7 linked regions of the Homo sapiens genome follow. The protein of the gene in region 6 purifies or fractionates together with the protein of the main gene of each other region. This does not show direct contact. Each region holds a gene or a part of one and is shown on either strand. Other genes may lie near its edges. The genes, in order: OXSR1, AFG3L2, PALD1, CORO2A, PGM3, SSH1 and PPTC7.

Evidence for each region.
Region 1: the proteins of SSH1 (region 6) and OXSR1 purify together in Homo sapiens (affinity purification with mass spectrometry, with the first as the bait; one large-scale study listed by BioGRID). This does not show direct contact.
Region 2: the proteins of SSH1 (region 6) and AFG3L2 purify together in Homo sapiens (affinity purification with mass spectrometry, with the first as the bait; one large-scale study listed by BioGRID). This does not show direct contact.
Region 3: the proteins of SSH1 (region 6) and PALD1 purify together in Homo sapiens (affinity purification with western blotting; one study listed by BioGRID). This does not show direct contact.
Region 4: the proteins of SSH1 (region 6) and CORO2A purify together in Homo sapiens (co-immunoprecipitation; one large-scale study listed by IntAct). This does not show direct contact.
Region 5: the proteins of SSH1 (region 6) and PGM3 purify together in Homo sapiens (affinity purification with mass spectrometry, with the first as the bait; one large-scale study listed by BioGRID). This does not show direct contact.
Region 7: the proteins of SSH1 (region 6) and PPTC7 purify together in Homo sapiens (affinity purification with mass spectrometry, with the first as the bait; one large-scale study listed by BioGRID). This does not show direct contact.

Annotation. Positions count from the first base shown.
Region 1 is NC_000003.12:38,171,638-38,175,780, reverse strand, and holds part of OXSR1 (serine/threonine-protein kinase OSR1), read right to left. Parts: intron 1-4,143. UniProt on the Homo sapiens protein: Effector serine/threonine-protein kinase component of the WNK-SPAK/OSR1 kinase cascade, which is involved in various processes, such as ion transport, response to hypertonic stress and blood pressure.
Region 2 is NC_000018.10:12,356,462-12,360,604, forward strand, and holds part of AFG3L2 (mitochondrial inner membrane m-AAA protease component AFG3L2), read right to left. Parts: intron 3,591-4,143; coding exon 3,466-3,590; intron 2,483-3,465; coding exon 2,209-2,482; intron 371-2,208; coding exon 233-370; intron 1-232. UniProt on the Homo sapiens protein: Catalytic component of the m-AAA protease, a protease that plays a key role in proteostasis of inner mitochondrial membrane proteins, and which is essential for axonal and neuron development.
Region 3 is NC_000010.11:70,537,124-70,541,266, reverse strand, and holds part of PALD1 (paladin), read right to left. Parts: intron 3,457-4,143; coding exon 3,361-3,456; intron 2,988-3,360; coding exon 2,859-2,987; intron 2,376-2,858; coding exon 2,259-2,375; intron 2,176-2,258; coding exon 2,020-2,175; intron 1,688-2,019; coding exon 1,505-1,687; intron 166-1,504; coding exon 25-165; intron 1-24.
Region 4 is NC_000009.12:98,126,638-98,130,780, forward strand, and holds part of CORO2A (coronin-2A), read right to left. Parts: intron 3,254-4,143; coding exon 3,157-3,253; intron 2,083-3,156; coding exon 1,970-2,082; intron 1,624-1,969; coding exon 1,533-1,623; intron 187-1,532; coding exon 1-186.
Region 5 is NC_000006.12:83,175,883-83,180,025, forward strand, and holds part of PGM3 (phosphoacetylglucosamine mutase), read right to left. Parts: intron 4,086-4,143; coding exon 3,928-4,085; intron 2,875-3,927; coding exon 2,791-2,874; intron 179-2,790; coding exon 80-178; intron 1-79. UniProt on the Homo sapiens protein: Catalyzes the conversion of GlcNAc-6-P into GlcNAc-1-P during the synthesis of uridine diphosphate/UDP-GlcNAc, a sugar nucleotide critical to multiple glycosylation pathways including protein N- and O-glycosylation.
Region 6 is NC_000012.12:108,854,656-108,859,235, forward strand, and holds the start of SSH1 (protein phosphatase Slingshot homolog 1), read right to left. Parts: upstream 2,929-4,580; 5' UTR 2,842-2,928; coding exon 2,773-2,841; intron 2,640-2,772; exon of another isoform or gene 1-2,639. UniProt on the Homo sapiens protein: Protein phosphatase which regulates actin filament dynamics. Dephosphorylates and activates the actin binding/depolymerizing factor cofilin, which subsequently binds to actin filaments and stimulates their disassembly.
Region 7 is NC_000012.12:110,541,382-110,545,524, forward strand, and holds part of PPTC7 (protein phosphatase PTC7 homolog), read right to left. Parts: intron 1-4,143. UniProt on the Homo sapiens protein: Protein phosphatase that plays an essential role in mitochondrial metabolism and biogenesis. Positively regulates biosynthesis of the ubiquinone, coenzyme Q. Dephosphorylates the ubiquinone biosynthesis protein COQ7 which is likely to lead to its activation.

The sequences.
Region 1 (4,143 bases), on a different chromosome or scaffold from region 6:
ACACAGCAGAATAAATTAATGTGCAGAAAATATGGATGAAACTTCTCCTTAAATCTTTCAAACTGGGTAACTCTACTTCTTGAGACAGAGAAGGATCTGCCCAAGCATGAGCAGGACTAAGAAAAAATTTCAGTTTCTCTCCGCTTTACTAAACTTAGAAATTTAAGAGAGAGAACGTAGGGCCGGGCATTGTGGCTCCCACCTGTAGTCTCAGCACTTTGGGAGGCCAAGGCAGGCAGATCACTTGAGCTGACAAGTTTGAGACCAGCCTGGCCAACACAGTAAAACCCCGTCTCTACAAAAAAATACAAAAATTAGCCGGGTGTGGTGGCACACGCCTGTAGTCCCAGCTACTTGGGAGGCTAAGGTGGGAGGATGGCTTGAACCTGGGAGGCAGAGGTGAGCCATGATCATACTGCTGCACTCCAGCCTGGGCAACAGAGCGAGACCCCACCTCAAAAATAAATTTTTTAAAAAAGAGAGAGATAATGTAAAAGTAGATATTCCTGTCAGGAAAAAATGAATTAAATGAATCAAATCAAATGAACACATTTTCTCCTAAATTGTGCCCAGCCATCACTATAATAGGCTTATAGTCTAAAGATTTTAAAGTATATTTTAGTAAGGTTTTGCATTCACTGAAGAAAAGCACTAGCCCAGGCTGTTTTGAAAGATGACTAAAGTATTGTCACCTGAACCACACAAAACATAAGAATTTACAATTTTGTTAACCCCTTTTCTAAATAAGGTCTCTTGTCAGAGTCATGTTGAAAATTAACTGGCAAAACATCTGTAAGAATAGTCATCATCATAAAAATCATGCTATTCTCTCCATACAAAGATGAAAATAAAGACACTGCCATATGCTTCAAGTAAGTATTCAAGCAGCCTGATGGTTTTGCAATGAATCATCACTCGCTCTCCTGTTCACTCTGGTGATCTCCCATCTGAGCGGATGGCAACTCCATTCTTCCAGATGCTCTAGCCAAAAATCTTGGAATCATCTTATCTTCCCTTTCTCTCACATCTAATCCAACAGCAAATCCTCCTAACTTCAAAAAATATGCTATATCCAGAATCTGACCACTTCTCACCATCTCCACTACTACTTCTCTCCCCTGGATAACCTCCTTCCACCCTTGTGCCCTTATAAAACTATTCTTCATATTGCAGCCTGAGGTGTTTGTTTGTTTGTTTTTGAGACAGTGTCTCATTCTGTCACCCAGGCTGGAGTGCAGTGGCGCCATCTCGGCTCACTGCAACCTCTGTCACTCGGGTTCAAGCGATTCTCATGCCTCAACCTCCCGAGTAGCTGGGATTACAGACATGCACCACCAAACCCAGCTAATTTTTGTATTTTTAGTAGAGATGGGGTTTCACCGTGTTGGCCAGGCTGGTCTCAAACTCCTGGCCTCATGTGATCCACCTGCCTCCGCCTCCCAAAGTGCTGGGATTACAGGTGAGGCACCTCGCCCAGCCTGCAGCCTGAGTTTTAAAACGAAAGTCAGGTCACGTTAAATCTCTGTTCAAAACCCTGCAATGATTTTCAGTCTTACTCAAAGCAAAAGCCAAGTTCCTACAACAACTTACAACCTGACAATCAGGACCAAGCATCCATACCACCTTACCTTTCTAACCTCTTCACCTATCTGTCTCTTCACCTTCTGATTTACTCTGCTCTAGCTGCCCTCAAACCTCCTTAGCATTCCTTAATCACATTAGCATGCTTCTGCTTCAGAACCTTTGTTCTTGTTGTCCTCTGCTTGGAACAAACTTCCTGCAGATAACCACATCATTCACTTCTTCACCTTCTTCAGGTCTTTCCTCAACTGTCATCTTCTCAGTGAGGTTTTCCCTGACCTAAAACTGAAACCCCACCTCCACCCCTAGCAGTCCCTAACCCCTTTCCCTGCTTTTTCTTCTTTAGAGTTTCTAGATTATAAACTCTGTGAAAGCAGGCATTTTTTGTGTTTGCTTCATTGTTTTATCTCCAGCATCCAGAACAGTGCCTGGCACATAACAGGAGTTCAAGAAATATTTGCTGAATGAATTAATCACATAGTGGGGTATATTTTCAAGGAAAAAAAATCTTGTTTGGGGCAGAACACACACAGAAATAGCCCAGTCTTCATGGGTGTTATTTCATCGTTACCATCATGTACATTAACATTCACTGAGCATCCATTCTGTGTGCCAAGTCTATGCTGAGCACTTTCTTTACTTACATTTCTTCTTTTCATCTAATCATTACAATAATTCCATGTGATAGGTATTCATGGTCTTACAAGACAATGTAAGTAAAGCAATGTAATTAAGGTAAAACTTAGGTCATACAGTTAGTTAGGCAGAGTAGGGCCTAGAAATAAGAACTACCTGAGTTTCAACATTATGCTCTTAATCAGTAGGCAACTACCTCTTCAGATTAAAGCTAACATTTATTAACTGATTACTATGCATCAGGTTAAATTATTTACTTGCAATACCCTATTTGACTATTTTCATTTTAAAAAAAAATGAGGCCAATATTCTTAGTTGCTTAGCAAACATACAATTTCCCCTTCTTTAGTAAGATAATCCTGACCTATTTTGTTTGAAGTAATAATGTGTCCAGCTAAAGCTTCATTTTGCAGTCTGCCTTGCAAATGACCAAATTATACAGTTCTGGCCAGTAAAATAGAAGTGGAAGTCACTGAGTAAGGCATCTAGGAAAGAAAGCCTTTTAAAAGAGAACCAACTCAGCTGTCATGTGTCTTTGTCCTTTTGCCATATTCTTCTGGACAAGAACACAAGCATGAGTCTAGAGGTGGAACAACCATCTTCCAACTATGAGAAGGAGAGTCACCTGCTAAGTGTGGTCGCATGAAAAAACTAGGAGCCTGGGTGCCTGACAGCACCTAGGCTGCCACCTCCAGTCTTCTTGTTATATAAGGGGGAAAAAGGATTTTATTAAGCCACTATTATTTCCATTTTCCCCACATGCAGAGAAATGTAAGCCTTATTTGATACAACACTATGAGGTTGTTGGCCCAATGCTGGCCTCATAGAAAATGTCACCTTAGCTGAGTCTCCCAATCAATGGAAAAATACACTATTAAGCACCACTCTATTGAAAGCACGAAGTCCTTCACATTTATGGAGGCGCTAAAGGTAAGGCCCTGGAATCTGTATTTGAAAACCACAACTTTAAACTCAAAATGTGTGGCTAGTAAACAATCAATGAAAATAAAAAGAAGGGAAAGTCAAGAATAGAAATATATTGCACTGCCTTCAAAGTGTCAAAGCTAGGTGAATCACACCTTAAACCTAGTATTAAGTTTTCAATTTTCTAGTCTGAGGTAAATAGTAAATACTTATTGAGACTTTTCAAGATGCAGGGCAATAAAACCTAACTGGCACAGCCCTCTCTGCCATCATATTGTATTATTAGCAATATCATGGTGATGGTCCTTACAGTTATACTACGATGTCCAACATAAATCCCTAAATCCATCTAAACCTGAATGAGGCCTGGACTAAGAAAAAAAAAGATGCGAAAATAAAATAAATGCAATAATGTTCCACTAAGCATTAAAAACAGATTCAAACTATTTTAAGTGTCACAAGCTTTCACATCACATAGTATTTCATATTTCATGGCAATACCAAAAATTGGGAAATATGAGGACAAGGGGAAGGGTAAAAAAAAGTCAGAGATAATAACAACTATCATTTTATACAAGCTAAACACTTCCCACAAATAATTACACTCAATCTATATAACGGCCCCAGTGACATAGGTACTATTCTCCCCACTATACAGACAAAAAGCTGACACGGAAACTAATCATATAATTTGTCTAAGATCACATAACTAGTAAGAGGCAATGTCAGGATTTGAATCTGGGTCAGTCTAACCCCAAAGCCCAAATTTTTACAGCTGCTTCAACACATGCCAAATACAGTATAACACATGCTCAGAAATTCTAATCTAAGACTAAGGGCTCAAAAATACTGAAAGATCAATGATTAATTGTGAGAATGATACTAACATCTTTTACACATAATCATACTTAAAGAACTTCAAATCTTGCCAAAGCATGCTTAAGGTGATACAATTCTTTAAAAAAAAAAAAAAGTCCTTTGAATTTTCAATCTATAGGCTTT
Region 2 (4,143 bases), on a different chromosome or scaffold from region 6:
TAAATTGGTCTACTATAGGTAGCAGACTGCAGTCCTAGCTGGTGCGAGGGAAGGTGGGGTGGAAGTCACAGGCCTTGCTGAAGTCTTAGGCCTGGAGGAGAGCTCAGGCCAGGGACTGGTGAGAGGTCACTCTAGCACTCTAGGGGGAAGGGCCATCTCTAGCAAGTGCCTCCATCTGTGGTGAAGTGGTGGGTGCAAGGAAGCTGTACCATCCGAACAGAATGAGACTCACTCTAGCAGGGCCCACACCAACGAACATCTCCAAAAACTCAGATCCACTAACGGTGATGAAGGGGACATTGGCTTCTCCGGCTGTGGCCTTAGCTAGCAGCGTCTTCCCAGTGCCTGGAGGACCAGTGAGAATGGCACCCTTCAGATATGAAAAAAGAAATTACATTTAATGAGAATTCCAGAAAAGTAAATTGTGTATCCACAAATAATTACAAGATATAACTCTGTCTCTAAATCTTATTGATATATATTAAATATTACTTAAACATCTGAGCTATGGTAGAACATTTTTATATTAGTAAGAATAAAAAGATTATCAAAAATAATTTTGTTTCAAAAAATTTGGTAAGAATGTGAAATTTAAAATATTTCCTTTTTTTCCTAGGGCTGATTTTTAGACCTTTAGTCTAACAGTATGTAAAGGGTGACTTGGGCTAGGAATATACTAATAAATCTGCTAAGGTTTACTTAAATAATTTAAGAAGACACCAACACCACACTCCTGATTTATGTAATTCTTTTACTCTTTACAAGTAAAATTGGTTTTTGAGCTCAAATAATTAATAAACCCAACTTCTGACTTCTACTTTCATGTACAAATCAGTACATTTTTAGCATGGTTGGACGTGCAACTTAAAACCTAACTGTGAATTTGTTTTTATTTCCACTGACTACCCACAAACAGTATCCTCTCTTATTTATAGACATACTACCACACTACCATATCCAAATACTGTGAGGAGGTAGATAATATGGTCAAATGATATTTTTTCTAGGCTTTGTAATAAAACCTTAAGGTATTTTTAAAATTTTGCTTATTTTCTTCTTTAAAAGTTTCACAAATGAAGTAGAAATCTAACGACCAATGATGAACTTAACTTCAAAGAAAGATGTGTTTGCTCAAACAATACACTTTTTTTTTTTTGAGATAGAGTTTCACTCTTGTCCAGGCTGGAGTGCAATGGCACGATCTCGGCTCACTGCAACCTCCACCTCCCAGGTTGAAGCGATTCTCCTGCCTCAGCCTCTTGAGCAGCTGGGATTACAGGCGCACAACACCATGCCCAGCTAATTTTTTGTATTTTTAGTAGAGACAGGGATTCACCATGTTGGCCAGGCTGGTCTCGAACTCCTGACCTCAGGTGATCCACCCACCTCAGCCTCCCAAAGTGCTGGGATTACAGGAGTGAGCCACTGCGCCTGGCCCTACACAACTATTATATTAAGTTGTAGAGACAGTTAGGTGTAATGCAAACGGGTACTAAGTAAGTTATAAATTCATAAAATATGACTTTTTATCTATAGAAGTAAGACATAAAAATCAAGGAAATGATTATCTTTCAAAGGATTCCTTTAAAGTAAAATTTATTCATGGACTTTTAAAAGAATTATACCTTTTTATTCATTTACTTAATAGCTGATCCATTTAACAAATATGAAGTTAATGCTCCACGCCTAGCCCTAGGGGCACCAAGCCCTGTAGGGTACAGCCCACCACTAGCACAGTGGGCAAGAGCATATTTGCTGGAAAGGGGAAGGTGATGGTGAGTGCTGTGTCCTCTCCACTGGATCCTGTGCCGTGAACCTCAGCGCCAGCACAGGTGTCCTGTCCACATACATCCCTCGAAGGGACACTGGGTGACAGCAGAGTGTGACATTGTCAGTGAGCTACAGCGGGCCTACAGTTGCTGAGAGATAGGGCATCTAAATCAGATTGGAGGGAAAAGGAAGACGAATCAAGAAAATCTTCCAAGAGGAGGTGACACAGATATTTTCAGGAATACATACACTATACAAGACACATGCACACAGAACTGACCCAAAACGATCCTCGAGTTGGGCAGAGGCTAGCCTAGTAAGCTGAGAAAGAGGAAGGACAGAAAAACAGCTATCTATAATAAGTAATCAAACTTCACAGAATTATAACTTCAGAGATCAAGAAACATTTCAAAAAGTTAATCTTAAATTTCATTTTACCTTTGGGATTTTTGCTCCTAGGTCTTGATACTGCTTTGGGTTTTTCAAGAAATTCACAAATTCCATGATCTCTAGCTTGGCCTCCTCACAGCCAGCCACATCTTTGAACTTCACATCAATTTCATCCTTTAAGACCTTGGCAGTGGTTTCTCCGACACTGAAGAGTCCGCCCATCCCTCGGCCTGTCCGGCCAATGCCAGCAGGCCCTCTTCTGATGGTGTAGAGCAAGAAGGCGATGATGAGCACCGTAGGCAGCATGCTCAGCAGAAAAGAGCTGGGGACACACAGCGCAACACGGGTTAGGACTGGCTGCTCACCTCCAGCTTTCACATGTGGTGCAAGATATCAATATAAATATATATAGCTACACCAAGGTATACCTTCTGCACTTAATACAAAGGAGGGTAACTTGCAAGTGTTCTTCAAAGGCAACAGAATTCCCAAATAAGCTCCATGGCAACCAACTCTTCGAAATAAATGGAGCATCTGCCCAGACTTTAAGTGGGGTTACTAACATGGTCTTATTAAAGACAACCCCCAAAGAAGAAGTTCTGATGAGAGAAGAATCACCTAAAAATCCTGGAAAACTGTGAAATGTAAACATAAATGATAGTTCAAAGATGGGAATGGCACTCTTTGATACAAAGGGGTTCTTTATGCTAAAATCCTACCAAAGGTCAATGCATTGAATGTTAATACCCTAAACCACTGCTTCATCAAGATAAGTATAAATGTGTACAAAAGGAATGAATCAAAAATAAAAATAAAAATAAAAATAAAGATAAAAAGCCAGGTGTGGTGGCTCACAACTGTAATCCCAGCACTTTGGGAGGCGGAGGCAGGTGGATTACCTGAAGTCAGGAGTTCAAGACCAGCCTGGCCAACATAGTGAATCCCTGCCTCTACTAGAAATACAAAAATTAGCTGGGCATGGTGGTGGAAGCCTATAATCCCAGCTACTCTGGAGACTGAGGCAGGAGAATCGCGTGAACTGGGGTGGGGACAAAGGTTGCAGTGAGTCAAGATCATACGACTGCACTACAGCCTGGGCGACAGAGCGAAACCCCACCTCAAAAAAAAAAGAAAATGAATGAGTCATGCAAAAACTAGTGAGTTACTAATAGTTTTTTAAAAATCTGGCCAAACTGATAAAGGCCTGTTTGAGAATATAATGTATAGCCCTGCACCCAGGGACAGAACACAGTGAACCACAGGCAGCACAGTCAACAGTCTACAAAATATTATATTTGAGATTACCCATCACTTTCAGCAATGTAGACAACAGGCACCCGATTTTCTCCTTCTATGCCCAATTCCTGCTGTAAAGTTTCCAGATTCCGTTCAAAGGTGTCCACACTGCCAATATTAAACCAAACGTATTGCTATAAAAACAAAAAAACAAATATCCTAAGAATGTAGTGAAACTAAAAGGTTCAATTCACTAAACGGTTCAACTTTTTAAGAATTTTCCAGAAATACTGAAAATTTATAAATTAAAGAATAAACAATAATAAAAGACTGGCTTTAATAATGGTGGTGATTAAATGTCACTCATTGAGAACACTTGGCAATTCTTGGCAAATAAGCATTTCTTTAGCAGCAATATCTCAGTGGCTCTAAAATTATAAACTCAAAAAACAGAATGAAAAACCTATTTGAAAACGTAATCCTTTTTAAAATAAATATGCATTATTTCCCTCTTCCTCTATTTCCTAGGTATTTTAGCTCCCTATTCCCAAATTTAAAACTACTGTGAAACAGGGATAAGAGCTAAAGTTTACTGGGCATGTACTAAGTACCAGGCATTGTTCTGGGCCCTTCAGATGCATTAGTTCATTCAATCCTGAGGACCATCCTAAGAAGCAGGTGCCATCACTGGGGGTGATGTTCAAAATCCGAGCACCGCACCCCACTGTGCAACTGGAACAGATGCGC
Region 3 (4,143 bases), on a different chromosome or scaffold from region 6:
TCTCACTTGAGAGGCCACACGTACTTGGATGTGCCAGAAGGCCAGGACAGCCACCACCATCGCAGTTGTGGTACGGCCCTGGCCGCTGAGGCAGCTGAACACGAAGCCAGTGCCTGGGTCCTTGGAGAGGGCGGCCCGCAGGGCCTCCAGCAGCTGGTCAAAGTCCTGGACGAGAAAAGCAAGGTCTGGGTCAGCGGGCGTCTCTTGGATGCACAAACCCCAACAGGGTCCCCATCCACATGGCAGCCCCAGCCACTGTCCTCGGGCCAGAAATTGTCAGGCTCCCAAGCTTGCACACACAAACAAAACTCACCGGGGTGCATGAGACCATGTGCGTGTAAACAGCTGCACCTGTGCAGTCGTAATCACCCTCACACCAAGCACCTGGACAGGATGTGTGAGCCAACACAGCATGCACCTGGGGCTCAAGGTACCCACCCTCCATCAGGCAGGACATGCACCTGTATGTCACCCCTGTGTACTGCGCCCCTGGGCTGCACATAGACTGCTGGCCCTGCCACCCACCTGAGCTGGACCCAGCCCTGGTCCCACCATGGACGGGGGCCTGACCTCAGAAGAGCCCTGCAGCACAAGGCCACCAGGAGGCAGCAGACCGCAGGCAGTGAGAGCCGCGAAGAGATGCGCCAGGAGGGGCTCAGGCAGGGTAACAGACCCCATTGCCAGTTACACAGCACACAGCGACCCACCTACAACACACGCACCACGCACACGGTGGCTCACCTACAACACACGCCAGACACACGCACCACACAGGGATCCACGTCCGGTAAACACACACACTATACAGACACCCACAGTCACAGACCTACAGATGCCACACACACACATTCCTAACGACCCCTCCACAAACCCTACCACACACCACACCACTCCCCTAAAGATGGTTTTCCACACACAGCCCCCAATACAGACAAGGGAGACATCACAAACTCCATAAAAAGACATGCACACACACACACATTCCACACACCACCCACACACTCCATACACAGTCCCCCAACTGAGACACACACACCACGGACACCCTGGACATGTTCACCCTCAACACACACACACACCTTATAACAAATACACACACACACCTGTAACAGAATACACACACACCCCGATAACACACACACACCTATAACACACACCCATAACACAATACACACACATACACCCTACAACATAATAAACACATGTACACACATCTTATAACACATATGCACATACGTAACAGAATACACACTCCAATACACACACACCTATAACAATACACACACATATACCCTATAACACATAATAAACACACGTACACACACACAAAGCTTGGAAGGAATGTGAATAAACCACTTGGGCCAAATCGGAAAACCTCGTGAGACCATTCCCGGGCCCCGTAGAGAAGCTGGGGTCGTTTCATTCTCCCAGAGCCCAGACCAGAGGGGAGACAGGGAGGCCTCCTGTCCCTCCCCAGAGGCCTCAGCCTGAGCAGCACCCTCACCTCCTCTCGGGGGGCACAGAAGTCCGGCATGGGGATGCGGTGGTAGGTGAGGCCAGGACAGGCCCTGCGGTGCTGGCTGAAGACCTCCTGCATGGTAAGGCAGGTCTGGAACCTGTAGGTCAGGGGGCCCTCCTTGCCTGGGGGAGGCTCGCTTAGATGGGCCTTCAGCTGGGCCTCCAGGGTCTGGGCAAGGGCAGGAGGGAGGACACAGGCCACTGGGGCAGGCTCTAGGCTAGCCCTGAAAGGCCACAGCCTGCCATGGCCAGGCCTGGCCCTGGCTTCCAGTCCCATCCCTGACCCCCCCAAGCCTCAGGGGTCACAGCCACCCCCCAAAGCCAAGCAGGTTAGCAGAGCACTTTAGTGGGAATCCTGAGTTGGCCACTCCCTGACACTGCTCCTCCCGGGGCCTCAGATTCTCCATCTGTCTGCGGGAGTGTGAGGCCTTCTGAAGACCCTCCCAGGCCACTCCCCAGAAGCCTCGGAGGCAGGGGTGCCTAGAGGGCAGGGGGCCTCACCTCCAGCTGGTCAGGAGCCACAGGGGGCCCAGGCCACCGCAGGCTGTAGGTGTGCCCGTCACACTCCAACACGGCCTCCTCCCGAAGGCTCACCCAGACAACCTTCCGCAGCCTCCTCTTGGCGTCCGTCAGGTAGGCCAGGATGCTCCCCAGGGCCTGGGCACAGGAGGGCCGGCAGTGAGTGCTCAGCCCTCCCTCCCCAAACCCACTGGGGGACCCAGGCCCTGAGGGCCGGTCACCTTGGCGCTGGGCTGGGCCGTGCCGTAGATGGGCATGCGGGGCACCCGCCGGAAGTTGGCCACATCCATCTCTCTGACAGTGCTGAGCGCGTCCGGGGAGACCAGATCGTCCTCCCGCTGTGGGGAGAGCACCAAGCCTGGGACCCACAGCAGCCGACTGTAGCCGCAGAAAGGGTCAGGACCTGGCCCAAGGCAGACGGGGGGTGGGGTGGAACCCGAGCTTCACAGTTTACAAAGCACTCCTGCACACTTGGAGCTTCCCCCGGCCCTGGCAAGAAGAAGTGCAATGGTGCCCACTCTCTGGACCAGGAAGCTGAGGCTCAAAGAGAAGAAGCTGGAGGCAAAGATCATAGAACCCTGCCCAGAGCTCTTGGGTTTGAGACTGAGGAGAAGGTACCAGAACAGCTGCCAAAGCTGCAAATGCTTGCTGGGGCCTAAGCATGACCCCATTCTGTTCACAAGAGGATCCCAACACCCACAGCCTCTCTTCTTCACCTCCTGCAAGGGCAATGCTTACCCCAACCCTACAGGAATCCAGTGTTTAGGGGCCAGGGCCAGTACACAGCCATGCCCACTTCTCCGACTGCCAGTCATACTCACTAGGGAGCCCCTGGCGATGAGGTCCCTCGGAGCCACAGGGCCTGCTGAGCTCAGCGTCACGGGCAGGCGGTACAGCTCAGGGTGGGCACACAGCCAGCGGCTGAAACTGAGGGCAAAGGCCAGCGGGTACTGCAGCCCGAGGCAGAGAGACGAGGAATTCAGGGGCACAGGGCCATCCTGAACCCTCCCTGCCCACACCATGGCAGGGGAAGCCCCAAAAGATATCCAACATGGCCCAGAGCAGGGACAAGGGAGTGGCTGAGAGAAGACCTGGACGTCTGGTGTCCTGGTTAAGGACAGAGACAAGGGCCCGGTGGAAAGAGGTGGGGCCTCCCTATGCCCAGCTGCTCAGGGACTACTCCCGAATCTGGGTCTCTCCTGGCCTCCCTTCCCTCCCCGGTTCCTTGGGGGGTCTCCCTCCACAGCAAGCCAGTCACTGCGGTGGGGAGGCTGGGAGAGGCCCAGGAGGAGGGGACGTGGGTCTGCTCCTCCCAGGCCCCACCTGCTCATGAAGGTAGTAGTTAAACAGGATCAGGTAGAAGTATCGCTCCAGGCTCCACAGCGCCCTCTGCCAGACGCTGTGTCGGCTGCCGCTTCCCTGAGAGAGAGGACAGGGTGTTAAGGACAGACTCCTCAGGCAGTCTTGTCCCTGTCCCCATCCCTGCAAGGGCAGGAGTTAAGCCTTGGAACTCCCCAGAAGACAGTCTTTCCCTCCCTTCATGACACAGTTCTGCCAGGCTGTAAGTTCTTCTAAGTGTCTCACCCTATCCCAGATGCTGTGGTTATCTGCGGTCAGGGGAGATATGTGGGTGACCACACCAGGCACTGTGGTTCTAGGTGCAGGGCTGGTCTCCCCAAGCAGGCTCCCAGCGCCAAGACAGGCAGGGGCTCCCTCACTTAGCTCCAGCGACACCCAACAGGTCAGGGTTGTGCACCCTCTGTGTTGAGGAAGCCAAGTGTGTGAACACCCCCGAGCCAGAGGCCCTCCCTTAAGAACTGGAACCTGGCTGGGTGCGGTGGCTCACGCCTGTGGTCCCAGCACGTTGGGAGGCTGAGACAGCCAGATCGCTTCAGCTCAGGAGTGCAAAACAAGCTGGGCAACATGGCAAAACCCCATCTCTATAAAAAAATACAAAAATTAGGCATGGTGGCACATGCCTGTAGTCCCAGCCACTCGTGAGGCTGAGGTGGGAGAATCGCTTGAGCCTGGGAAGTTGAGGCTCCAGTGAGCTATGATCTCACCGTTGCACTCCAGCCCAGATGACAAAGTGAGACCCTGTCTCAA
Region 4 (4,143 bases), on a different chromosome or scaffold from region 6:
CCCACCTTGGCATCTTCTCCTCCAACAGGGAGGAAGACCTCCAGCCATCTTCTGCAGCCAGCTTTTCTGTCTGATTCAAGAGCCGGGGTGAGGCTGGGGCCATGGAATTGAAGATAGGTCTCTCTGCAGGCAGTGGGTGGGGTCTCAGCAGCTCAGAGCCAGGCCTAAGGGACACCAGGATTGGGTCTGGAAGGGAAGCAGAGCCATGTGAGGACGGGGTGCCCACGGGAAGATGGGCATATGGGGCACCAATGACACAGGCAGGCATGCAGAGACACTCAGAGCCATGCAGACCCATGCAACATGTGTGGGAAATACAGCTACCTGTGGACAGGCCCAAACCCACAGAGCAGGGCTAACAGATACAAATACCCACGTGTGCCACCCTCAGAGTGAAGCTTGGTTTGTAGGAACAGCACGGTGCGTGCACTGAAGCAGCCCCCAAACACTTCAAACTCACATGAGACCTTGCCCTTGCTTTGTAAGGACAGTCCCACCCACACTGCACCCCACCATCTACCAAGTTCATTAGTTCTCTCACCACCTCCAGAAAGCAGGGGAGGCTGGCATCATGGCTACAGATGAGGAAACTGAGGCCCAGGGAGCAAAACCTACTTAAGGTTATCCAAAACTAGGACTCGGCCCTGGTCCGCTGCCCCCCAAGGCAGAGGCTCTTCCAGTACACCAGGAGGCCCGCTCAGCCACTGGGGTGGGGGTGAAGGAAGTTTGTGGGGGTGGAAGGGAGAGGGAGCAGCTGGGGTGACTGCTTCTGCTGGGCTGGCCCCCGTGTTGGCAGGAGCGGGAGAGTGGCTCAGGACAGGCAGAGTGGGCAGAGGGACCTGGGTGGGGGTTGCTGCCTGGAGGGCTTCTTGGGTCAAGAAGAATTGCAAAAGGCCAGGCCCAGTGGCTCGCACCTGTAATCCCAGCACTTCGGGAGGCCGAGGCAGGTGGATCACTTGAGGTCAAGAGTTTGAGACCAGCCTGGCCAACATGGCAAAACCCCCATCTCTACTAAAAATACGAAAAATTAGCTGGGCATGGTGGCACGTGCCTGTAGTCCCAGCTACTCAGGAGGCTGAGGCATGAGAATCACTTGAACCTGGGGGTGGGGTGGAGGTTGCAGTGAGCTGAGATTGTACCACTGCACTCCAGCCTGGGCAACAAAGCGAGACTCTGTCTCAAAAAAAAAAAAAAAAAAAAAAAAAAAAGAATTGCAGAGGTAGGGGTGGGGAACAGGGACAGGGAGTCTGGCTGAGGTGGTCCAGGCACCCCACATAGCCCCAGAGTGTAAAGAAGCTTTCCGTGGGGCAAAGTCCCTTGAGTTGGAGTTTTCTGAGCTCTTGGGTCAAGCCCCCTGACTTTCTGGACCTGTATGTGACCATGCTACCCACTGGGGACTGAAGGTCAAGGGCATGGCTTCTGAGGTCATGAGAGAAGAAAAATCCAGGCCCAACCCCTCTCAATTGCTTGGGGCCACTGGGCACGCCATGTTCCTGTCACATTTGCCTGGGCCTCTTCTCTGCCTTCCTCACCTCGATTCATCCCGCTGAGCCACTCCTGGGCCGTCAGGGAGGGCTGGGCCCCTGCTGTTGGAGGGTATATGTCCTCTTGGTAGGATTCTGACTGCAGGAGAAATCCAGACAGTGAGGAGGGTGGTAGGGTAGGCTGCTCAGATGGGAAAGGCCCTTAGACCTGGGAGTCCAGGCTCTCACCAACCCCTGCTGAATTGAGGAAACTGAGGCCCAGAGAACAAAGGGACTTGCCCGAGGTCACGCAGCAGCTCAAGAACAGAGGTGGACCGAGACCCAGGACTCCTGACGCCCACTGATGTCACACTGGCTGTGAGAAAGGCCGCTCTGTGGCTGCCCCATGAACGTGGGCTCCAGGCTCTGGTGCCCGACAGCCCTGGGTCTGTCTTCTCCAGGACAGGTTCCCCACCTGCCTCCCATGCGGTCCCGACTGCCCTTACCCGCCGGGGCACAATCATGGAGATGGGCTCGATGAGGCTTTTGGTTGTGATCAGCTTGTAGAAGCGGAAGATCTCGCAGGAGGACACGTCGAGTCCTCTCTTTGGCATGACACCTGAAGGCAGACAGGGAGGGCCAAGAGGTTCTGGCTAGGCTGGGGCCACAGTGTTAGGGCCAAAGCCAGGCTGCACACCTGGACCTGAACAGAGACCAGTCTCCTCCCAGAAAACAGCTCAGGGACAAATACCGACACTGGGCTGGGCCCTATGTTGGGAAATGGAGTTGAATTAATCAGACTCTTCACCTTCAAAGATTTAAATTATTTTAGCTGAATTTTTTTCTTTTTGACACAAGGTCTCACTCTGTTGCCCAGGCTGGAGTGCAGTGGCACAATCATAGCTCACCGCAGTCTCACACTCCTGGGCTCAAGCGATCCTCCTGCCTTAGCGTCCCAAGTAGCTGGGACCACAGGTATGCACCTCAATTTTTTTATTTATTTGTAGAGACAGGAGTCTCACTTTGTTGCCCAGGCTAGGCTCGAATTCCTAGGCTCAAGTGATCCTCCAGCTTTGGCCTCCCAAAGTGCTGGATTAGCTGAACTTTTATAGGCAGTTTGCTCTGCTTAAGGTTCCCCATCTCCATCCCCACAGCTCCTGTGACCCAAATGCTCTTAATCAAACCGCTCCAGATTCCTTTTGAGTAGGGTTAGCAGGGTGCATCTTTCTCCAGTCCCTTACTTTTAATCTAGCCATGTCTTTATGTTTAAAGTGGGTTTCTTGTAGATTACAGAAATATAGCTGTGTTTTTAATCCTCAAGCACACTTAGAAAGGAACTGAGGACTGCTTCCTAGAGGCTCTTCTAGGTCAGCCCTTTCCATCTCTGCTCTTGTGGTAACTGCTTAACCTTGACCTAGAACACATCCCTCTCTCCCCTGCTGGGCTCTGCTTCCTCTTTCAGTTCCTCCAATGTTGCCTCCTCTGAGAAGCCTTCCCTGACTTCCTCCTTTGTGCTGTTGCACACGTCAAGTACAGCCCCCACCAAGTCAGAGTGTTGCTATGCTGTCTCTCCTCCCATCTGACTCATCCCTGTCTCCCCAGACCCCGCACTGAAGCCCTGACCCTGATTCTCCCACCTCGGCCTCCCGAAGTGCTGGGATTACAGGCATGAACTTCAGTGTCCCTCACTTACCGATCCCCTTCTGTGGGTTATAGGAGCGGTACTCAGTCAGGTAGCTCAGGTGAGGCTTGTCGGCGCTCACCTCGTAGTAGCGGATGTTGCCATCTCCCTGAGGAGGAGGAGAAGGAAGAGGAGGGTGAGATTCAGAGCTGGAGCTCATCAGCTCATCAGCAACCCAGCCATGCAGCAAAGACCTGGCTTTTTTTGATGATCGGCAAACCCATCTCACTCAAGGGAACACCAGGAAACTGGGGGCCCTGTCATCAAGGCAGGAGGGTGATGAGGGGATATTCATTTTATTTTAGATTTTATCTTATTTTTTTGAGACAGGGTCTCACTTTATTGCCCAGGCTGGAGAGCAGTAGTGCAATCACAGCTCATTGCAACCTCCTGGTCTCAAGCCATCTTCCCGCCTCAGCCTCCCGAGTAGGTGGGACCACAGGTGTGTGCCACCACGCCTGGCTAATTTTTTATTTTTTCATTTTCGTAGACATGGGGTCTCACTATGCTGCCCAGGCTGGCCTTGAACTCCTGGGCTCAAGTGATTCTCCCACCTTGGCCTCCCAAAGTGCTGGAATTATAGGCATGAGCCACTGTGCTGGGCCTGGGCCCTTATTTTAATATTCAATCCTCCCCCACCATGACCCAAAGCCCACCCTTTTTCCTCTAAGACAGAAGCTCTGGGAAGACAAGTCCAAATCCCGCTCCTATCTGAGAGCAGCAGCAAAAGTCAGAACTGGGGTGGCCTCAGAGGTCATCCAGAAGGTCTTACCATGGGGAACATTTCTGGTTGTCATAATGACTTGGATGGAGGGGGAGAGATGCTGTTCTTGGCACTGGTGGGCAGGGGCCAGGGCTGCCAGACATGGGATAGTCCTACCCAGTGGAGACCTGTTCTGCCCCCAGTTTAGCAGGTGCCCCTGCTGAGAAACACCAATGGTCCCCCCACATCTGGGCCTGGAGTTGGGAAGAGACAAGGTCAAGGTGTCCAGCCAGAGC
Region 5 (4,143 bases), on a different chromosome or scaffold from region 6:
TATTATTACCTCCCAGATATAGAAGTCTCATCATAAAGAAAAGTGCCAGCTAAGGCCAACTATAATTAAGAGAACTTACAGTGCCATGCCCATTTGCTTCAAAATAAACTCCAATGTCAAACTCTTGAGCCTTGTGGTGCAAATGTTTTACACCAGTCTTAGTGCAATAGACAGGTACCTATAACACATGCATTTAAAGAAATACAGCAATTACTCAGATGTCAAATGTTTCTTGCATACCTAGTATCCCAGAGATACAAAGGGGAACAAAATACTGGGGCCGAGTCCAGTGAGGAAGACGATTAAGCATTAAAATACAAAATGGTACGTATACAATGGAAGCATGAACACACTCTGGAAGCACGCAGCCAAGGGTAAAGCACGGTGAGAGAGATGAGGGTCTCCTTATAAGACACGAAAGATTACAAGTGGGGGCGTGACATGACCTAACTGTTTTAGAAAGCTGTTTAGCTACAGTGTGGAGAATAGCTTAGAGCAGAATTGCAAGCTTTTTCTGTAACAGGCCAGACAGTAAATATTTTAGGCTTTGCAGGCCATATGGTCTCTGTCACAATTACTCTGCCATTACAGTGCAAAAGCAGCCACAGACCATACATAAACAAATCAACATAGCTCTATTCCAATAAAACTTTGTTTGCAAATAGCAGCAAGTTCAATTAGAAGGTTAAGAAATGGAATGAGGAGGCTTCTAGGACTAATCCCAGTAAGAAATAGTGGCTGGATCAGCAATAGTGAATAGGGAAAGTCATGGATGGATGGATCTGAGAGAGCTTTAAGAATGGTTAAGGAAAGATTGATAGTAGAAAAACTGCAAAAGAAAGATCAGCATTAGATTGGATGTAGGAGACCTCAGGAATGGCAAGGGCTAAAAATATTTCATCTGGAAGACAGTGAGTTGAGAAGTAACAGTTTCTTAAACTAGGTTATTTTATCTGTAATAAATTTTTAAGACAGAAAATGAAAATCCTAAAACAATAACCCAAGTACTGTGAAATAACCCAATCCCTGTGAAAGGCAGGCAAATGGGCCCCAGATGGAATCCCTTGAATGAGCTTATTATAACCATATATTAAAATCAGGTCATAAACTAGCAGCCTCAAGATATATTTCGTTTTGCCCAGCCACTGTTTCTTTTTAAACAAATAGGAACATCACATGAAAATTCAGATTTCCTGCTTCTCTTGAAGAGTGTGACTACAGTTGACATCAGCTGGCACATACTGACCTGTTTTTAGCCCCCTGCTGCCCTCATTCACTTTACCTGTCCAAATCCTGCAGGAATCTGACTTTGTAATTCCTGCTTTCTAGAGAATGGAAAGGTAACTAAAACTAGTATAAATGCCAGAACGAGGTACAAAATGAGGTACAAAAAAGTTGGAAAACTTCTCGATAATGAGAAAGTATAGGCAAACAGACTTCCAGTTTTGTCCATGAACCCTGGTAACTCTCCGAGCAAGTAGTGTGGTGCCAAGGGTGGTCACCTGGTGGACACCGGGGAAATAATTAGAAACAGAATCTCCCACCACCCCAGAAAACCTCTCCAAAAAAAAAAGAAGGGTAAGAAACAGTTTTATTACTGAATAAGTATTAAGCCAAACTGATGTTCAATCACAGGCTAATTTGCTAAGAGATAGCAAAGATAAACGCTCACCCTTTAATATAGCCAAGCGGACACATTCCAATACAATTTGCTAAGATAAAAGATGGCTAATGACAAAAATTCTCTCCTTGACCAAACTTTAGTTAGGTTTAGGTGGGCCTGACTAGGCCTTGTCCTTAGGCATGTCTTCCAATAGCCCGATTTTAATAAGAGTCATGCTAAGTGAGCTTAGCGAGAATCCCTCATCCTGATACATGACCACTCTTGACATCTGATCTGAGTTCTCATTCTCTACCATCCCCCAGGTAATATGTGACCGCCCTGGCCTACCTTCAGCAAAAGTCCTGTTAGATCAGTTTAGCCAAAATACCACCCACTTACCCTCATGTTTCCTCTCAGTAATTTTTCATCCACTGACCACCCCCCACACACCCTGCTCCTTGGCTATAAAGCCCTACTTTTCCTTACTATATTTGGAGTTGAGCCCAATCTTTCTCCTACCACTGCAAAACTCCATCACATTAGTCCCTGTACCTATCACAACAGTCCTGAATCAAGTCTGCCTTACCATTTTAACAAGTGTCATGAATTATTTTTTCTTTAACACTAGTCCTCAAATAGGAAAACTTGAAACCACCATTTGTCACACACATAGTTTATCCTAAACTTACTTGGTAATAGGGATGGCCACCTGTGTTAACTGCCCTTCTCTAAAGGAGTAATAAAACTTTTCATACCTCTGTGACAGGTAGATAGTTACAAATTGGACGCAAACACCTAAGTTAAACTCTCCTGAGACTGGGAGATAGGTGAGCTATCTTCCTTGATGTTTATATTTGAAATTGGTGACTCTAGGCCCTTAAAGAAAAGTATTCCTGAGCTATAAAACTGGCTTATTAGGCCTTTAGAAAGACTTACATTCATTACAAAGGCACAGAGAAAGAATTCCAAGTTTTCTAAAGGAAAACTCCAAGAAAAGGAAGGAAAGAAGTTTTCCTTTATTCATCAAGGACAACTAAATTTTTTCTTATTTATTTCTCTTTACCTTTACATGAACAGCAGCTCAGCTTCATGCACTACAACATAATCACTTTTATGAGGGCAGTATCTTTCTCACAGAAACATGATCTTAATTAAGAAACTACCAGAAAACAAAAATGGTTCAATACCTTCATAACTTCTTCAAGATACCGTGTTGAACTTCCATTTGCATATGCAGTTTGTACAACACCAATATTCAAACTTTCTCCAATCTAGACAAAAACAATGATACTTAACTTGCCATCAAAAGTATGGTCTACAAAAACAAATATAATGAGAGTTCTAAAGGCTACCAAAATTATCAGCCAGTTCAGTTGTGCCTTAGTTTATGCCAAAAATGTCTGACTGAAAATTTACATGTATGCCAGGAAAAAAGCCTAAAATACATTTGAACACTATTTAAAACAATTCTATGAGAATTCCTCTTTTAAGAAGCCTGTATCTCCTGATCTTCACCTCTTTAATTTTTTAAATAAAAGTATCTGGCCAGGCACGGTGGCTCACGCCTGTAATCCCAGCACTCTGGGAGGCCAAGGTGGGTGGATCACCTGAGGTCAAAAGTTCGAGACCAGCCTGGCCAACATGGTGAAACCCCATCTCTACTAAAAGTACAAAAATTAGCCAGGTGTGGTGGCATGCATCTGTAATCCCAGCTACTTGGGAGGCTGAGGCAGAAGAATTGCTTGAGCCCAGGGAGGCAGAGGTTGCAATGAGCCGAGATCACGCCCCTGCACTCCAGCCTGGGCAACAGAGCAACACTGTCTCAAAAAAAAAAAAAAAAAAAATCTATTAAATTCTTAAAGTATGCTGTTTCCAGATTATAATAATTTCCAATTACATTGTGTACTTAAAGCTAGCCTGAGATTTATTTCTAAAATAGCAAAATGAAACAAATCTCACATTACTAAGCTTATCATAATCAGTTAATATATCAGATGATGAGATTTCCTATTAGAATTTAGGGCTTTTATGGAGTGACCACAGAACTGTCATCAAAGTTTCAATTATGATGGAAGCAAAACTTCCTAAAGCTTCAAATCACAAAACTCAGCCAGTATAAGGAGGAAAAGAGTACCTTCAGGTTCCAAAGCCAATGCCTCAAATGTTCAAATGACTGGGTATTACCACTGCTCTTTTTTTAATTTTCTGCCCACTAATGTAAAGAATTTGTCATAAATTGTGCCCTTCTGACAAATGATTGTAAAATATGGAACTATTTCACTACTAAGTCTTGTTTTAGAGGGTAGCCAATCCCCCCACCATACCTCCACCAGGAGCTCTTTAAGGAAACTGCTAATTAACGTTGCTATCTTGTCTCCATCTATGAGATGAAAGTGGCCATCTGCATCATGGTAGTAATAAACAATTCTGTCTGCATCTCCATCAAAAGAACAGCATCTTTCATTGGACTTAATTTCCATTCCTAGCACACAGGATAATTTAACATGCATTTCAGTCTAAGAATTTATTATAAAGAGTTT
Region 6 (4,580 bases):
TACGGACTTCACAATCATTTAACTCTCGGTCACTCTCTGAGGTTCTCAGATGAAAGGCCATCTCAGGTCAGTTATTCCAGGGAAACTACATCTGCCAAGGAACACATGAAAGAGGTAATTCAGTCCTTTTAGATGAGCCAGGGCCCACACACAGGAAGCAACTCAAGCGAGGGCGGACCAGGGCAGAACCGGCCTGGCCTAGGTCTCCTGACCCCATACACACTTGCTGTCTCCATCCCACCTTGCTTCTCACCTCAACACATCTGAACGAGGGCCTTGCCTTCGGGAAACATCCCAGCGCATTCAAAGCCAAGCAATGAATGCTGCAGCTTTGCTATGATCAAATAAAAGCTGCCTGAGTTTTACTTTATGTTTATCAGGGTCATTGGCACTTGGTAAAAATAATGCTTTATATAATAATTGAAAATGTATCTAGTAGACACAACACAAATGTCCAACAAAATGTGGTACATCCATACAATGGAGTATTATACAGCCATGAAAAGGAATGAAGTACTGCCACATGCTACAATATGCATGAACTTTGAAAACGTGATGCTGAGTCAAAGAAGCCAGACACAAAAGGCCACACAGGGTGTGATTCCATTTATATAAAATGTCCAGAATAAGCAAATCCATAGATACAGAAAGTAGATTAGTGGTTGCCTAAGGTTAGGGAGAATGGGGCAGGGGGAGGCTGCAGGTGAGGGCTAACGGGTACAGGGTTCCTATTTTGGGGAGGATGAAAATGTTCTGGAATTAGATGGTGGTGGTTGCACAATCTCATGTATATACTAAAAACCACTGAATTGTACACTTTAAAATGGCAAATTTATGGTATGTAACTAAAAAATAATAAGACCTTAAAATGCGTAAGACAAGAACAGATTAGGTTGCAAGTAACTCTAGGAACATGGGGTTTTGAATCAGAAATCTGGGCTGACAGGTTCAGCCTGAAGCCAACCTCTCCCCTTACCTCACATAAACTTTTGTGATGAGAACCTGAGATTAAGTGCATAAATTGCCAGACAGCAGTGACCGGAACAGAAAACAGCCCCTCCTCGCTGTGGGAAGGAAAGGCGCTCCTGCAACCTAACTTCTCAGTAGCAGGCTATTGATCGCCAGTGTTCTTTTGCCTCTAATCAGCGTGTAGAGGGGGATTACTAGAACCTTCTGTGTATAGATAACTCATGAATGGCCTCTCCTCTCCAAGGAGGGGGCTGTGAAGGTTCAACTTCCCAGCCACTCTGAAAATGTCCCTGCCAATCCCAGCAAAACAAGGCTGAAGAACTACCCTACCAGGAGACAGGGCTGTCAAGCCAAATGCAAACATTATTCTCTTGTCTCTCTCAGACACACAAACCTCCCCCGTGTTATCAGTCAACTTCCCCCACTCCCTCCCACAAAGAAAGGGGCTGAAGAGCCCAGATGCTGGCTGCGGAACTTCCTGGGCCTGGGACCGCAGGGCCGCTCCTCCAGTCTTCTCTAAACACAGCTAAGGGTCTGCAGGCGGACACTCAGCCTTGTTATAGGTAAGAGTTTAGACCAGAGGCCTTGACGGGTTCTTCAAGAGATGGTGGGCAAGATTGCGCGACCAGAGGGTCATCCCTGCAGCTACAGAGGGCTGACCTGCTCAGAGGCCCAAGGCCCCAGCCTAGGACAAGCCAGGCCAACCCTGCAGGCTAAGAGGGCAACAGTGCCCTCAATCAACCCCAGAGGAAAAAGTGGCCAGGCAAACGGACCTGGGCCACACACAGACCCACAAAAACGCGCACAGTGCCAGGACACGCAACCCAGGAATGCACCTATGCAATCACCCAGAATGGGTCACAGCCACACAGAAAGATAGATGCACATAAACACACAGGCCTGAGTGATGTTACAGAAAGGAAAAGCCAGACTAAGGCTGCACGCACAGACGTGAAACACAGCCACACAGAGCCCACAGCACGCTCGGTCACCGTCACACAGTGACACGGGCACGCCTACAGACAGAACTCCAGAGGCGGCAGGCGGGGAAACAATCTCACACGTTTGTAGGGGCACTCCCAGATGCCTGTCTCACGCTGGCACAGTCCCCGGACGGCAGGTCAGCAACAGTCACATCTCACATCGCACAGCCAGGCATACAGGCAAAGGGCCTAGAACTACCCCGGCCACAGGTCTCAGAACCAGCGGCTCACGCAGTCACCCAATCAAGGGTCCCAGTTGCACATCCAGTCACCCCTGGACCCTGGTCACACTGCAGAGTCACTCACAAATGGGAGTCCCGACAGACGCACAGTCCTCCCCAGACAGAGGTCAACCCAAGATGGGGGTCACACCTGAAATCACAGTCCCCACACAATCACGAGGTCACATCTGCACACACAGTCTCTGCACAGTCACCCTTAGGGGTCACAACGCACACAGTCTCCGCCTAACAGGGGTCACCCCAAGATGGGGGTAACCCCCTGATGTGGGTCACAGCGCACACACAGTATCCTGCAGACACTCCCAGAGGGGTCGCACTGCATACACAGTCCCTGCAAAGTCGCCCCCCGATAGGGGTCACACCGCACACAAAGTCCCCGCACAGCTCCCCAAGACAGGGTCACATCGCACACAGTCCTCGCACGGTCACCCCGGTCCGGCTGCCCGGCTCTGTTCCTACGGCGGGGCCCCGAGGAGCCCGCGCAGCCGCCCCCCTGCCCCGCACGCGCGGCCCCAGCTCCGGCGGCCTCGGCGCGGCGTCCGGCGGCCCAGGCCGGGCGCGGCGAGCCCGGGGCTCACCTCGCTGTTGCTGGCCGAGGAGGAGGCGGCGCTGGGCGTGGGCGAGCGCTGCAGGGTCACCAGGGCCATGGCTGCGGCGCGGTGCGAGGGCGCCACAGACGTCTCGAGCTAGAGCCGCCACCGCCACCGCCGCCCGGGCCGGGCCCGGGGCCTCCTGGAGCCGCGCGCGGGCGGCCGGGCCGAGCCGGGCCGGGCCCGCCCCTCCCCCTCGGCGTCGCCACCGCCCCCGCCCCCAGCTCCCGCCTCCCGCGCCGGCGCGCGCAGGCCTCAGTGCGCGGAGTGGGCGGGGAAGCGGGCAGGGCGGGACGAGGAGGCGCGCGTGCGCGGGGGCCCTGAGGGCTGCCCGAGGCCTCGGCTGGTCGATCACGTCCCTCGCGCGCCCGACACACGCGCCCCCGCCCGCGCGCCCCGCTATCAGGCCTGGGACTCGGGGGCGCGCGCGCCGCCCGGAGCCCGTACGCCCCAGGGGCCCTGCCCGCTGCTCTGCCTGGGGAAACTGAGGCCCGGCGACCGTGCAGACAGGACTGTACAGCGACCAGGAAATAAAAGACGTCCTGGGGCCGGGCGCGGTGGCTCACGCCTGTAATCCCAGCACTTTGGGAGGCTGAGGCGGGCGGATTACGAGGTCAAGAGATCGAGACCATCCTGGCCAACATGGTGAAACCCCGTCTCTACTAAAAAGACAAAAATTAGCTGGGCGCAGTGGTGCGCGCCTGTAGTCCCAGCTACTCGGGAGGCTGAGGCAAGAGAATCGCTTGAATCTGGGAGGCGGAGGTTGCAATGAGCTGAGATCGCGCCACTGCACTCCAGCCTGGGCGACAGAGCGAGACTCGGTCTCAAAAAAACAAAAAACAAAAAACAAAAACAGTAAGCAAAATAGATTCGCCTGATTTTGCAGAGGTTAATCAAGTTATTAGGCACGTTTTTAAAAAAGTATTTTGCTAATCTTTTTCAATGAATTCTTTCTGGGTGTTCTGAAACCCAGCCAACTCCTTGGAGGTCAGGGAAGGCTTCCCAGAAGAGCTTTATTCTGAGGCTTGGGCTTGAGCATAAGCAGGATTAACAGGTGAAAGAACAGAGAGACAGCTCTCCAAGCAGGGGGGATCAGCGTGCCCTGAAGCAGGAAGAAGTTTGTCAACCGGAGGCCAGCACTCAGGGAAGGGAAGAGGGGAGGAATGGCTGGAGTCTCCATCCTCTCTGGAAAGATCGCTCCGGCTGCTGCGTGGATGAGGGACCACGGGGCAGAGGGCTGAGGGAGACCAGGGAGGAGGCTGCTGCTGTTGTCCCGGGGAGAGGTGACCAGTTATGGGGATGGAGAGGGGAACATGGAATAAGATACCAAGAAGGCAATTCTGGCTTGACTTAGTAGTAGGAAACTTTTCTTTTAGCCAAAATCTCATCTCCCGGCTCCCACCCCCAACCTCTGCATGTTGCACAAGCACTCGCAAACGCAGTGGTCCCAGCCTGCCCCGCAGCTTAGCAAATTTGTCTTACTGCCCAACAGGAAACCCACGCAGCCTCCTGGATTCTTCCCCGTCCCTCCCTCTGTCCTGGGGCTGTGACCTCCTCCATGTTATTCACAGGGTCTCAGCACGATTCATCTCAAAGGTGATTCTAGTGGGGGGCACTGTAGCTTCTACGGAGCGTTTCTAAGAGGGGATTTGTGGGAATGTTTGTGGTTGTCTTGCTGATGGAGGGGGAGAGCTCCTGGCATTTAGAGTGCAAGAGCCTTGGATGCTAAATGTCTTCCAATGCACTGGACAGTCTCCCCAACAAGAATTGCTCCATTCCCACAAAATGTTTCCTGG
Region 7 (4,143 bases), 1.7 Mb from region 6:
CCATCTCAAAGAAAAAGAAAAAGGAAAAAAATAATTCATTCACTTGCCAGTCGCAGTGGCTCACGCTTGTAATCCCTGCACTTTGGGAGGCCAAGGCGGGCGGATCACCTGAGGTCAGGAGTTTGAGACCAGCCTGGTTAAAACCCGTTTCTACCAAAAATACAAAAAATTAGCTGGGCGTGGTGGCACACGCCTGTAATCCCAGCTACTAGGGAGGCTGAGGCAGGAGAATCACTTGAACCTGGGAGGCAGAGGTTGCAGTGAGCTGAGATTGCACCATTGCACTCCAGCTAGGGCAACGAGAGCTAAACTCCGTCTCAAAAAAAAAAAAAAAAAAAAAGAATACATTCACCGGAAATAGCTACAGTATTTTGGCATAGTAAGGACTCTGTGTCTCCCAAGGGTCCCAAAGTGGTCATCATACGTAGGTATTTATTAGTGTGCCTCATGTAACACGTCTTCAAGAAATATCTTGATATCTTGACCAGGCGTGGTGGCTCACCCCTGTAATCCCAGCACTTTGGGAAGCCGAGGCAAGCAGATTATTTGAGGTCAGGAGTTCAAGACCAGCCTGGCCATCATGGTGAAACCCCATCTCTGCTAAAAATACAAACGTTAGCCAAGCATGGTGGCGTGCGCCTATAATCCCAGCTACTTGGGAGGCCGACACAGGAGAATCACTTGCTTCAACCCCAAAGCTGAAGGTTGCAGTGAGCTGAGATGGCGCCACTGCACTCTAGCCTGGGCAACAGAGCAAGACTCCATCTCAAGAAAAAAAAAAAATAGAAGAAATATCTGTTGCATAACTGAATGAAGCAGCAAAATATTTGACTCTCCAAATTGGGGGAAAAAACTCTTCAATATACTGTTGAAGAAAGCAAGGTGAAGACGGTGTGTCGTATGTGCAACCATTTCCGTAAAAAAAAAAAGGCAGAAAGACACACAGACATGGATGCTTCTATATGCAGGGAATAGATCTGGAGAGAATCAAAGAAACTGCTCATAGCGGGCTGTGGGTGGTGGCTCACACCTGTAATCCCAGCACTTTGGGAGGCCAAGGTGGGCAGATCACTTGAGGTCAGGAGTTCAAGACCAGCCTGCCCAACATGGTGAAACCCTGTCTCTACTAAAAAATACAAAAAGTTAGATCATGGTGGTGCACACCTGTAATTCCAGCTACTCGGGAGGCTGAAGCAGGAGAATTGCTAGAGCCAGGGAGGCAGCAGTAGCAGTGAGCCGAGATTGCGCCACTGCACTCCAGCAGCCTGGGCAGCAGAGCGAGACTCTGTCTCAAAAAAAAAAAAAAAAAAAAAAAAAAGAAAAAGAAACTAAAGAAACTGCTCATAAAGAAACCTTTGAGGACAGAATATGTGGCTAAGGGCAGGAACAGGAGGCAGATGTCTCACTAAACTTTTTTGTGTACAACTCTTGAAAAAAAAAACAGATGGAAGATCTTTTTCTCTGACAATGCCTGATGAAAACAGACATAAAAATGGGGGAAAACCCCGGGTGGGGAGAAAAGATCCTATATTCAGAGATCATGGCCTCCTGAGGCTGGTTCTTGGCGACTTCTTAAGGCCAGTTTCCCTCCTTCCAGGCCTCCCTGGGGAGGGAAAGGTGAGATCTGATAATCCGCCTTAATCTGTAATTAAGGAACAAGAGCCAGGAAAGCAAATCAGATACCGACCCGGAAGGGAGGCACCAGATCCAAAGCACCCTAAGCTCCACGGAAAAACCCCAACACTTGTGTAAGCAACATGTGACAACATTTGTGAAGAGAAAGCATAAAAACTAACAAACAAAAGCACACATGCCTATGAGGATTCACACTAAATGCACTCAGAAAATTTCTGGTTCATCTTCACTTGACTGAGGAAAAAGGTGGCACATGTAAAGTTCTGCCATGTGCTGCTGCAGGGAACCGACTTTCACTTACATATTTAGATAATCAACATTTTGTAAAAATGTCTACTAAAGGAAAACCTGTAAGTTAAGGTTAAAATAATATTCTGTAGATAAGAGGGACCATTAACTAAGGAGATACATGCAGCATGAAAAAAAAAAAAGGGAAAAAGACTGTAAAACTGGGGGAAATCAGGTCAATTCTTTCTGTGGAATAAAGAGAAAACAATGCAAGACGCTCTCATCTGCTCAGCCTTTGAAAGCTAATCAGATTCTAGAAGTGTAGATTAATGACCAGGTTGGCACTGAAGCTCTGTTTTATGCTGAGGTTTTTCTTTCCCCAGAAGTGTCCTTTGCTATTCTGTCTGTGAGAGTCTTGCTCCCATTGGACAGTTCGTCCTCTCCTAACACTCCCACCCATGAGCTTGGTGTTCTGCCAGCTGCAGTTTTGCCCATTTTGATTGAACATACTGTGCTGCTGGAAACTTTTGACCGCACTGAAACATGAGCTGAAATCACATGCTAGCGAGCTGTCTCTGGGCTCTAGGGGAAGCCACCTCCACCTCGCTGGCATGCCGGCAGAGTACTGCCCCAACCTGTCTGTCCCACAGACAGTGTGTGAGATATGGCAGGGCTGCTTTGGTGCTTGGAAGCCCAACAAGAAGAATCAAATGAAGAAAAAATTGAAGCACCAGTCTCCAAAAACTGTGATCTGAGCTTGGGCTCTACGGAGGCCTTGGGGTTCAGAGTTCTCCCCACTCCAGTGTGGCTAACAATAATGTAGATTACAGCCAACTTTAGAAGGGCCTAGAATCAAATACTCTTCCAATTATGGTCACCCGCCTACTTTTACTTTTTACTTTTGGATTTAGACTGGTGACCATAATTGGAAGAATATTTAGACTTTTACCGGTAAAAGTTACTTTTACTGCTAAATTTTTAGATGGGCAATGCTGAACATTTAATTACATAACATGCTCGTTCCAGTTTAAAAGATGGCAATAATAATTCATTTTATCTTAGTTTGGACCTAAGAGATGGTTTAATGAGAGCTATTAAGTAGAGACAAGTACTTGCTAGAATGCTTCTATTTTTACAAAAGGTTCATTGTCCATTAATCAACATTTATGAATTGCCAGTGATGTTTGTGCCAGGTCCTATAAAGCTATAAGATTGTTAAAGACACTGAAATCTGAGGCTTTGCCTTACTCTGGACACTCATCTAAGAAAAGATAAACTGTAAAAGTCAACTCAAAAAAAGCACCATTTTGGCTGGGCGCAGTGGCTCATGCCTGTAATCCCAGCACTTTGGGAGGCCGAGGCGGGTGGATCACGAGGTCAGGAGTTTGAGACAAGCCTGGCCAACATGGTGAAACCCTGTCTCTACTAAAAATACAAAAATTAGCCAGGCATGGTGGCGGGCACCTGTAATCCCAGCTACTTGGGAGGCTGAGGCAGGAGAATCGCTTGAACCAGGAGGCGGAGGTTGCAGTGAGCTGAGATCATGCCATTGCACTCCAGCCTGGGCAACAAGAGCAGGACTCTGTCTCAGAGAAGGGGCGGGGAAAAAAAGCAGCATCTTGGAACGTTCTTGACAATTTAAAAGTGAACTGAGAAAAGATGTGAGAAAGAAAAAGAGAACACCTCAATAACATTATCAAAGAACATATCCAAGACCACTTTTTTTAAAAGACAGGGTGTCACTATGTCACCCAGGCTGGACTCCAGCGATTTTCCAGCCTCAGCCTCTCAAGTACCTGGGACTATGGTCCTACACCACTGTGCCCACCTCAAGACCATTTTGGTTTTATTGTTTTGGTTTTTTTTGAGACAGAGTCTTGCTCTGTCACCCAGGCTAGAGTGCAGTGGCGCAATCTCGGCTCACTGCAATCTCTGCCTCCTGGGTTCAAGCGATTCTCCTGCCTCAGCCTCCTGAGTAGCTGGGACTACAGGCGCCCGCCATCACGCCCAGCTAATTTTTGCATTTTTAGTAGAGATGGGGTTTCACCATGTTGGCCAAGCTGGTCTTGAACTCCTGGCCTCAAGTGATCCACCCGCCTCAGCCTCCCAAAGTCCTGGGATTACAGGCGTGAGTCACCGTGCCCAGTCACTTAAGACCATTTTGACTCCATTTCCTGCAAGTTCTATTTGATGCATGTAGTAAGAGGTCTAGAGAATCAGGAAGTTACTCCAATAAATAACGCAGATGTCTGTTTGTGCTCTTCCCTAACAATGTATGCA